Homo sapiens: one gene and its partner. The protein of the gene in region 1 purifies or fractionates together with the protein of each later gene. This does not show direct contact. Each region holds a gene or a part of one and is shown on either strand. Other genes may lie near its edges.

Region 1 (4,278 bases):
TAATTTTTGTGTTTTTAGTATAGAGAAAGGGTTTCTCCATGTTGCCCAGGCTGGTCTTGAACTCCTGAGCTCAAATGATCCACCTGCCTCGGCATCCCAAAGTGCTGGGATTAACAGGCCTGAGCTCCCATGCCTGGCCTTTTCTTTCCTATGGTTAGTATTTTTGTGACCTATTTAAGAAATCTTTGCCTGCCCAAGATGTTCATGTTCTTCTGGAAGCCTGTTTTAGCATTCACACTTATGTCTATGGTCCCTCTTGAATTAGTTTTTGTACATGGTGTGAGGCTCAGCCTGACCTCCCTGTATGATGTCTGGGATCCAGGCTACCTGCCTATGCATCCTTCTGGGTATTGGCAGACCCTGGTGATAATACAGCACACCCCTGAGGTGATCCCAAGACTGCCAGGAGGGAGAGGTTATCCATGGAGCTCAGCATCATTTATTGACTTAATTCCTACCATGGTGCTTGGCTGTGGGAGAAGCAGAAAATGCCCTGGACAGCCTTCACCAGGAGCAGCTGCTATTGGAAGAACTTTACTTAACCCTTCAAATCTCATTCCTACACCTGCATAGGCCAAGAGGCCCTCCCCAAATCCTCAGTTCCTGGCCCTCAGGGCTTTGCCCATGAACTCTGGTAAGTAAGTGAGTGAGTGAGTGAATGAATGAAGTAACACAGCCATCCATGCTTGCATTCCGTGTCCCCTACTCTGAGCCAGCCTCTCTAGCTAGGTTAGGGGTTCAGGGTGCAGGCAATGGAAGCCTCCGACAACTCCTCTTGGGTTTGCCTGTTTCCAGTGCAGCTGCTCCTGGACCATGGTGCTGATCCTAACCAGCGAGATGGGCTGGGGAACACGCCACTGCACCTGGGTAAGCATGTCAGAAGTCACTAAGACAACTCATTTGCAGCAAAGAAAGGCTCTTTAGATGAAGAGGGTGGGGCCCGGCATGCTCCTGGCAGAAACTGTGAGTGTCAGGGAAGATCCTAGGCCTGCACTCCCAGGGCTGCACTGCCCAGCAGCCTGTGTCCCATGGGCCTTCCAATCATTTAGCAGTTGGCTGTGCCCTCGGCAGAGCCAATTTAGCAACCTAGGCTAGCCCAGCAGCACTCAGCACTGTGGCTCACACTGAGGCAGATCCTATCTCCAGGCCTCAGTTTCCTCTGCTGTACAGGGAGGGAGTTGAACTTGACTTCTGAGTCCTACCTAGCTGTGCCTTGGCGATACCTTCTCAGTAGGCATAACTTGGCACAGGCGTCTGGGAGACACAGCCCTGCTCCCTCCAGTGGCCACGCAGAGCCAGGCTCTGGTGGTCCTGGATTCTTAAGTCTCTGTTGTTCTTCCTCAGCGGCCTGCACCAACCACGTTCCTGTCATCACCACACTGCTACGAGGAGGTATGTGGTTTCTTCCCCTCTCTGTCCTCTTTCTCCCCCTCACCCCCAGAATGCTCACCTCAGCTGGTACCTGCAGGGGCCCGTGTAGATGCCCTGGACCGAGCTGGTCGCACACCCCTGCACCTGGCCAAGTCAAAGCTGAATATCCTGCAGGAGGGCCATGCCCAGTGCCTAGAGGCTGTGCGTCTGGAGGTGAAGCAGGTGAGTACCCCTTCTGTGTGGAGACCACGGCACCAAGGCAGCACTGGACAGATGCTGCCCTAACCACAGACACACCTGCCTCTGGTCCCAGGGCTCCTGGGTTGTTTCACACTGACCCCAGTTGGCACCTGCTCCACTGTGCTTTTTGGAAGCAGCATCAGCCTGTCTGCCTCCCTAGGAACCCAGGCAGCTCAGCTCACCCTCTTGTTCCAGATCATCCATATGCTGAGGGAGTATCTGGAGCGCCTAGGGCAACATGAGCAGCGAGAACGCCTGGATGACCTCTGCACCCGCCTGCAGATGACCAGTACCAAAGAGCAGGTGAGCTGCAGCCACAGGCCCAGACCCAGGGCCTGGCAGGAGCCTCAGGGCCAGTCCACCCTGCTCCGATGCCACCAGACACTCGTATCAGAAAGAGGCTGTGGGCTGGGGCCAGCCGCAGGGGCTCACACCTGTAATCCCAACGCTATGGGAGGCTGAAGTGGGAGGATCACTTGAGGCTAGGAGTTCGAGGCTGCAGTGAGCTGTGATTGCCACTGAACTCCAGCCTGAGTGACAAAGCAAGGTCCTCTCAGAACATGTGGAAAAAGGCAAAAATTATAAAAACAACAAAAAAAAAAACCAGAGCAAGGCCCTGTCTCAAACAAAAAAAGTGGGGGAAAGAGCCTATGATTGTGGGGTTGCAGGCTTCAAAGCCTCCGTTCACTTCCTTTGAAGTTGCCAGTGGCTAGTGTGTGTTCATGGCCCTGCCCTCTAGGACAGCGCTAGGCCACCTGGTGTCAAAGATTGACCCTTGGTCAACTGCTGCGTAGTCAGAAGCCACCACACGCCCTGGGAGGAGAGACCGTGCCTGTGTTCTGTGCCTGTGGGATTGTGGAAGAGACCCAGGAGCCCTGGCACACCCCGTGTCCCATAACAGAGCCTCTGTTCCGTCCTGCAGGTGGATGAAGTGACTGACCTCCTGGCCAGCTTCACCTCCCTCAGTCTGCAGATGCAGAGCATGGAGAAGAGGTAGCAAGAGAGGCTCCCTGCCTTCCTGCCACTGCCCCACCCTGCCCCACTGCTGTCTCAGTACCAAGAAAAAGCCCAACATCTGGGACTTGGAGCTGCACTTGTCTGGTGAGGACCTTGCCCTCACCCGCAGATGCCGTGGGGCAGAGATGCTCTCTCTCCACGGCCTCAGAGCCACTCCCAGCCACAGTTTCCAGCATCTCTGTGGACAGGGACCACAGCTCCCAGCTTCTTCCAGTTCTCGCAGCACCAGACCAGCCTCTGCAGCTGCACTTCAGCTCCGCAGACCTGCGCTATCTCAGCAGACCTCACTTGCCCCATGGCCTTCATGGCGCGCTCCAGGCCTCAGACCCTTCTCTGTGTTCCGTCCTGGCCATGGGCTTGTTGCAGTCAGCAGGTGTGGGCTTAGGCGGGCACCCTGTGGCCAGGGGTACTGCGTGAGGCCCTCAGTTGGTCCTGTGCCTCTCACCAGCACTTAGACAGACACGTCACCAGACTTTCAAGGAGATACTGCAGTGAGTTTCTCTGGTTGGAAGGGGAGGGTTGGTGAGTCCCAGACCTTAAAAATACAAGGTTAAGAGGGACCCCAAAGCAAAAAATTCCAACCCTTTTCCTCCCAGTCATTGAAACACCAAAACTATTATACCGGAGGGTGTAATAGTTTTGCTGCCCAGTTGTGGTAGGCCAGTAGTGGCCTCCCAAGATGCCCATGTCCTAATCCCAGGAACCTGTCAAAATTACCTTGTATGGCCAAAGGGGCTTTGCAGATGTAATGAAGTTAAGGATCTTTCGCCAGGAAGATTATCCCAGCTTGTTCAGGAGGGCTTGATGTCCTCACCCGGGTCTGTATAACAGAAGAGCAGGTGACGGGAGAGGAGGTTGGAGGTGTAGCGATGGAGCAGGAAACTGGAGTTGAGGAGGGCAGCTCAAGCCACAGAGTCCAGGCCACCTCAGAGCCAGGAAATGCATCCTCCCACAGAGCCCTGGAAGGCCCCAGCCCTGCTCCCACCTGGACTGGCTCAGTGAGGCTAATTTTATAATTCTGGCTGATTTTAGAACTCTAAGGGAATAAATTTGTGTTGTTTTAAGTCACTAAGTGTGTGGTAATTTATTGCAGCAGCAACCAGAAACTAGTATTGTAGTGAAGCCCCAAAAACTCACCTTGAGGTTCAGTCCTGTCAGCAGCCCCGCTCCCCGCTGCAGGAGCACCAGTCCTTTGCTGTGGGCCATGGACAGGCAGAAGGAAGCGTGCGCTCCTAGCGGAGGCCTGCTCAGGGAAAACCCAGGGGATGGCACTGCTGGGCCCGCCCCTGCCCCAAGGCTGCTGATGGTGACTTTCTCCAGGTGATCAGTCCGTGTCCCGCCTGGCTCTGCCCTACTCTCCCCTTCACCAAGTTGGAATCCCTGTCTACCTTTCAGAGGAGGAGAGTGTGTTCCCCAAACCCAGCTTGGTATGGCTCAGATCTGCATTGAACTCATAGAACCTAGGCCAGGCCTTGGAGGAAAAAAGGGTCTGTCTGTGGGTATGAGATGTAGGGTAGGCCTGTCCCCAGGACCCTGTGAGAGGGAAGCCCAGTGCCCCACCAGGTTGGCAGGGCTGGGGAAGGGAAAGTGCAGTGGCCCCAAGCCTGAAGAGAGGCGGCAGAGGGAGCTGTGGGGCGCGCCCGTGGAACT
Region 2 (5,887 bases), on another chromosome or scaffold:
TGCTCTGTTGACAAACGTTTTCTGCCAGATGAAGTGTTTCTGCTGTGCCTGCCTCTCTGGGAGGGAACGTGGAGCAGCTCCCTGAGCATTCAGGCTCCGTGGGGAAGTCGGGCTGATTTTAAATAGATCCCGGTTTTCCAGGCTTGGAGCTGAACGGCATGACGGGGGCGGACGTGGCCGATGTCCCACCCCCTCTGCCTCTCAAAGGCAGCGTGGCAGATTACGGGAATTTGATGGAAAACCAGGACTTGCTGGGCTCGCCAACACCTCCACCTCCCCCTCCACACCAGAGGGTAAGTCGGCAATCTGAAACACAGGCTTTCATTGCTTCGCCTCCACAAAGTAGGACGAGTCCCTCATTCCAGATACTAGCAGGTTTACTTCGGGCTAGTGAGCACATGAGGAAAACCATGTATGATGGGCCCGGGTTTGATTTTGCAAAAAGATATCGAAGCAGTAAGGACTCCAGTGGGTAAGATCTGTGGCTCTGCGTCATTATCAATAACTGCATCAAAAAGCACATTTTGATATCATGCCTCAGAACGAGGAAGAGGATAGACATTCCAAGGTTGTCATCGGTTATCATCACCATGGAGATCATTCCACTGGAGATGCAATTCTAATGACATTTTGATTTTTGAGAAGTAGCTTTTCTATCAAGAGGTCTGACTTTTTAAAGAGGTTGGCCAATATCGCCCTGTATGGCAGGCACCTGTTGTACACCTGCTTGGCCCTGGAGAAGCTTGTCTCCAAACATCCCTCCAGGCAGCCTCACCTGGTGCTGGGAGCTCCTGGGTGGTGACAGGCACTCACCTTACGGAGACTGCAGAGGACAGCCAGGTTTGGCTCCTGGGCACAGTCATCCTCACTGTGCCCCCACCCCTGGGCACCCTCCCCAGTGCTAGTTCGGGGGTGCTGACCTGGCTTCCTCCAGCAGCACTGGCCTTTGTAAGCCTAAGCAACCTGCTGGAACCCCTCTTCAGCGTGAGTCCCTGAAGCTGGTACCCCCCAGCAGCTGTTTTAGTCATTCATGCCACCCAAAGTGCCTTGTGCCAAACAGCCCCTGGGCCTGCCTGCCCGTACAAATATTAGTCAAAGTCATGAAAAGCCATTTAAACAAGCACCTCAGTTACCAGTTGACAGTTCTAGAAACATTCTTTTGAGATCCACCCCGTTCCTCTCCTGGTTCTCAAGGATGCTGTCAGGCGTCACTCATCCCTGCGGGTCCCAGCCCCATCCTCATGTCGGGCCCAGGCATGTGTGGAGGGCAGCATGAGTGGGATGGAGGCGGGCGAGCGATTGACTCAGCCACGGCGGGAACTTCTGCTTCTAGGCTCAGGCCTCCCCAGGCCATGTTATTCACAGCCTTTGACAATTAAATCAGTGGTGTCTGAAGGGTAAAATATCCCTCTTCATATGTGGACAGCTGGCCGTATTTTTTTTGCTATCCAGCCTTAGTGAAGTAATTATATGGCCGCAAAACTCCTGTAGAACATTGAAAACATGAGATTGTTGGGTGGCTCTGTTTTTTTCATAATGGTGAGACATGGTTTTTTTTTTTATTTTTCTTTAATAAACAATATAAATCCCACGTGCCATTTCTTTTTCTTTTTTTTTAATGGAGACTCGTTGACGGAGTGTTCCACAAGGTCATTACATCCCTTATGAGAGGAGTGGAAGAGAGAGGGTGTTTGTGTACAGCATACGTATTTCATCATTCCCTTTGTATCAGAAAACTAAACAAGCAGTCATCTTTAATATCAAAGAGGCAGATTGCTCTTCTGAGACCCAAGTGCCATTTAAACAGGCTCCCTCTCCCTAGAGACGCCTCGATGGGGAACCGGTCCTGGAGGAGGCACCAGGTTCCCCTGTGAAGAGGGCTTTCTGGCAGGCTGGAATGGTTTGTTGCACCACAGAAATGGAAGCCGGACCTTCCCCGGCCATTTCTAACTACTTGTGAGAGTAAAAGGAGATTCGGGGGGGTCTAACAAGAATATTGGGTTGCTTGGAGTATTGTTTCCCTAACAGCTTCGTTAATTGGTCACATTCTCTTCTCTCTATTTTATTGCAAAGGCAGGAATGTTCCCCCTAGTCTCCCTACACTAGTAAACTGAAAATTCTAAACTTAGAATTACAGCCAATTCCTCTTCTTGTTACAAATCAACTCCGGGGTAACATTTTATTGTCTCAATTTCTTGGATACACCATTGTGGGTTACTGATGCCACATACAGTTGATTAAGTAAGGGATAACATGGATTAGCTCTCTCTCAATTGATAAAGGGCGTGTGAATTCAATTAGATTAATGACCCAGGTGTCTTTGGTCTTTGTTTCTTGTTTAATTTACTTGCAGCCTGAGTGCATGCTCAGGTGACACGCTGGTGGTTAGTATGTCATCATTAGGCAGAAGCGGTTGCATTTCCTGGGGTGCCTCCCTTTGCACAGGCCCTGAGAGCTGTTCTAGGATAATGATCATCCATCTGCCATGATGGGGGTGTGATCAATATCCTCCTGTCACTCTCATTGATCAGCCTCAGGCTTGTAGGCAACTCTGTCTTTAGTTGTTGCCACTAAGCTGTCATTTCTTTCCAAATGGCTCTTCCTGTCAGTAATCTGAGCTTACTGAGTTTATCACCATTAATCATTTTGCTTAATGGTGATAAACTTTTGACATGCTCATACTTGGCATAGAGGTCATTTGCAGCGCTGTGTTGGTATCAGGCTGTGTTAGTGTGGTCCTTACCTGCTCCTCATTGGCCTATCAGTGAGTGTGGCTTTCACATGTAAACAAACAGTTTCATCAGACCTCAAAATAGATGTCTCTTTTAACGGTTCTAACCAACCTTAAAAAGACTTAATTGTTGTTTTACCTTCCTTAATATAAGGTCATACACTCATAGGACATCTTTATATCAGCTTTACTTTTCCACATTTATTCTCCTCTCTGTGTTAAGCATTAGGTCATTTTTGTATTTACTAGTCTGTGAATCAGGAGGAAATCTGGGCGATGAGTGAGAGACTACTGCGTCACTGTCTATCCTTGAAAACCTCTTTTCTCACATTCAGCTAAATGCAAACCCACACTGAGAGGCTGATAAAAATCCACTCTTACCCTTAAGTTAGACGATAGTGTTCTGTGATTTCATTCTGGTTCTTCTGCCTGTGGCATGCTCCCACTTACCCTGGTCTGTTCACTTCTTCATTCATTTGTTTACTTACCTGTTCATTTCTTCATTTATCCACTGACTCGTTTATTCACTCATTCATTTATTCACTCATTCATCCATTTTTCTATTCGATTGACCCATATTTCTAGAGAGTCTCCTGCACATCAGGTGTGTGTGATGGGCATGAGGGTCCCAAAAGCAATAGGGTGCAGCTGCCCTCAGTCATAACACTCCAGCCAGGTCCATCAGCAAGGGGTTTGCTATTATCTTCACATTGGAAATTAATGTTCTTTTTTGGAATCTAAAGTAATATATGCCCATGAGCTGAAGCCAGCCAGCCAGCCACCTGTTTCTGTGAATAGTTTTCTTGGAACACAGCCACACCCCTTTCTGTACACACTGTCAATGACCGCTTTTCGGCCACACCAGTGGCATTGAGTGGCTGCAACAGAGACCGTGTGGCCTGCCAAAAAGCTGGAAATATGTACTGTCTAGCCCTTTCCAGGAGAAGCTTGCTAACCTTTGCCCGAAGCTCAGAAAGCAAAAGAAGGTCTCTCATCTCACCCCTGGAGAGTGCCTCTAAGGACTTATTTATCCCTTAGACAATAGATGGATAACTTGGTCGATAGCATCTAGATTTAAAAAGGCCACGCAAAGGGCAATGGTACCTCTCAGGGGCTGTGCAGACGGTGGGAGAGTGCTCAGAGGCGTCAGAAAGGCCCAGGCCCATAGCAGCCCAGTCTTGAGCCTAGTAGACCTGCCAGCCCCAAGTCGGACAGGATGGAGCCCAACTCATGTGGGGAGGATGGTTCCGGCTGAGTGGCTGTGCCAGGTCAGACCCCACCTGGAGACGGTGTCTTTTCTGTCAGGACATCAGTTATGTGACATCTTCCCCATCCTCATGTTTTTTAGCATCTGCCACCTCCACTGCCCAGCAAAACTCCGCCTCCTCCCCCTCCAAAGACAACTCGCAAGCAGGCATCGGTGGACTCCGGGATCGTGCAGTGACGTCGCAAGCCTCTCTGGAAAGAGTGTGCTGCCCCTCCCCATCTCCATGCCCTCTCCTTCTGTGTCCCCTGAGTCTGCTGTTTACCTCATTGGGCCTGTGATGTTAACATTTCGTGCGACTGCTTTTTCTTCAAAGGAGTTCAGTTCTCACCATGGAGTGAGTGGCCTTTAGCGTCATGGAGCAAGGTGGGTCTGGGAGGTAGATATGGGTCCGGGATGTGCTATCGTAGTTATCAGAGTTGGGGGCCTCTGAGTGTGTCTGGCTCTGAGAGAGTCTGAGTCTTGCCCAAACATTCTTTCTTTTTGTGCCAAATGACTTGCATTTGCAAAGAGCTCAATTGCTCTGAGCTCAGCCAAGTAGGAGAGGCTAGGCCATCACTCTTAGGAAGCTGTGTAGTGATGATGTATAAGAATCCTCCTCACTGTCATGGGATGTTGTATCCAGCCCCTCCTTGTTCCAGCCGGTGGTGTGACTTCGTTGGTTGAGGTGTGTCTCCAACCTACATCAGACCATGAAGTTCAACCCCTCCAGGGAAGCTCCTGATTTCCCCTGCATAATTGAAAATAGGATATTTCTCAGCTATTGAACAGTTACTAATTTATGGGGTGGAAACAGCATTAAGAATACTGAATCAAATGGAAAAACAAATGAATACAGGAAGATAAGTGTTCGTTCTTTTCTGAAAAAGAGTATGTGTACCACAAGAGCTGGTTTTAATTGGGTGAATTGTTTTTGTCCTCATTCTGTACAGAAATTTGTATATATGATGGTTCTTAGAACTTGTTTTAATTTTTGTGGTCCTTCCGTTTATTATAATAGGCGTCCACCAATGATTATCCATATGTGTTCTTAATTTTTAACTGCTGGAAGTGTTAAAACACACACACACACACACACACATTTTTTTTTTGAGAACTCCAAAGTCCTGAAAATTTTGGTGGACAATGATTTTTAAAAAACTAACTTTGTATAACCTAATATTTGTATTCTCTCATCTATATTTTTTTATTCACTATAATCATGATACTCTTCTAATAGACTTAAAAGTTAATCATTGACAACGAAAAATAAAATGTTATTTTAAAAGACTCACAGTGTCTGACCAATTATGTTTTCATCCTTGATTGTAAAATACAGACGCTGCTGTTTCTGTTCTGCTATGTTAAAGTGCTTGGTGACACACATTTATATATGCACCTCTTCCTCCAACATTGTTTTTAATCCTCTCTGTTAATTGTGTCTGATCTGGAGCCCAGATGGGAAGTGCCCGTGTCCCGTGCATGGCTGCATGTCCTGATAGACAGGAGCTAAGCAGAGACCAGCTGAGTGCTTCCCCATCACCAAAGCCAGAGGGCTGTGGGGCTGCAGATCATGTGGGCCTCTTTTCAGCTGCTAATTTAAGAAAGGGCTTTGGTTAATGGGTGTGTGATTTAGCTGTAGAGGTCTGGACATGGAGAGCTTTCTCCAGGGCCTATCTGGCTGGATCTGGGGTGGCAAGAAACAAGGAAGGCAGGGGGTTCTCTTCTCAATGGACGGGGCTCTCACCTCTGCTCCTGCCAGACGTGTGGAAGCCATAAGGATGTGCCCTCTGCCCATCTAACCCGGCCTAGAAGGAGGCTGCTGTGGAGCCCAGGAAGCTGGGAGGCTCTTCCTCCTACTCAGGTGCTGTCCCCAGCGTATTCATGCTTGTAAATATCCAGTCCACCCCTGA

What was found.
Region 2: the proteins of ANKRD54 (region 1) and DOCK1 purify together in Homo sapiens (affinity purification with mass spectrometry; 2 studies listed by BioGRID and IntAct, with this or other methods). This does not show direct contact.

Annotation. Positions count from the first base shown.
Region 1 is NC_000022.11:37,830,273-37,834,550, reverse strand, and holds the end of ANKRD54 (ankyrin repeat domain-containing protein 54), read left to right. Parts: intron 1-573; coding exon of another isoform or gene 574-634; intron 635-795; coding exon 796-867; intron 868-1,344; coding exon 1,345-1,392; coding exon of another isoform or gene 1,393-1,468; coding exon 1,469-1,593; intron 1,594-1,806; coding exon 1,807-1,914; intron 1,915-2,533; coding exon 2,534-2,608; 3' UTR 2,609-3,696; downstream 3,697-4,278. UniProt on the Homo sapiens protein: Plays an important role in regulating intracellular signaling events associated with erythroid terminal differentiation.
Region 2 is NC_000010.11:127,447,253-127,453,139, forward strand, and holds the end of DOCK1 (dedicator of cytokinesis protein 1), read left to right. Parts: intron 1-141; coding exon 142-293; intron 294-4,079; coding exon 4,080-4,175; 3' UTR 4,176-5,264; downstream 5,265-5,887. UniProt on the Homo sapiens protein: Involved in cytoskeletal rearrangements required for phagocytosis of apoptotic cells and cell motility. Along with DOCK1, mediates CRK/CRKL regulation of epithelial and endothelial cell spreading and migration on type IV collagen.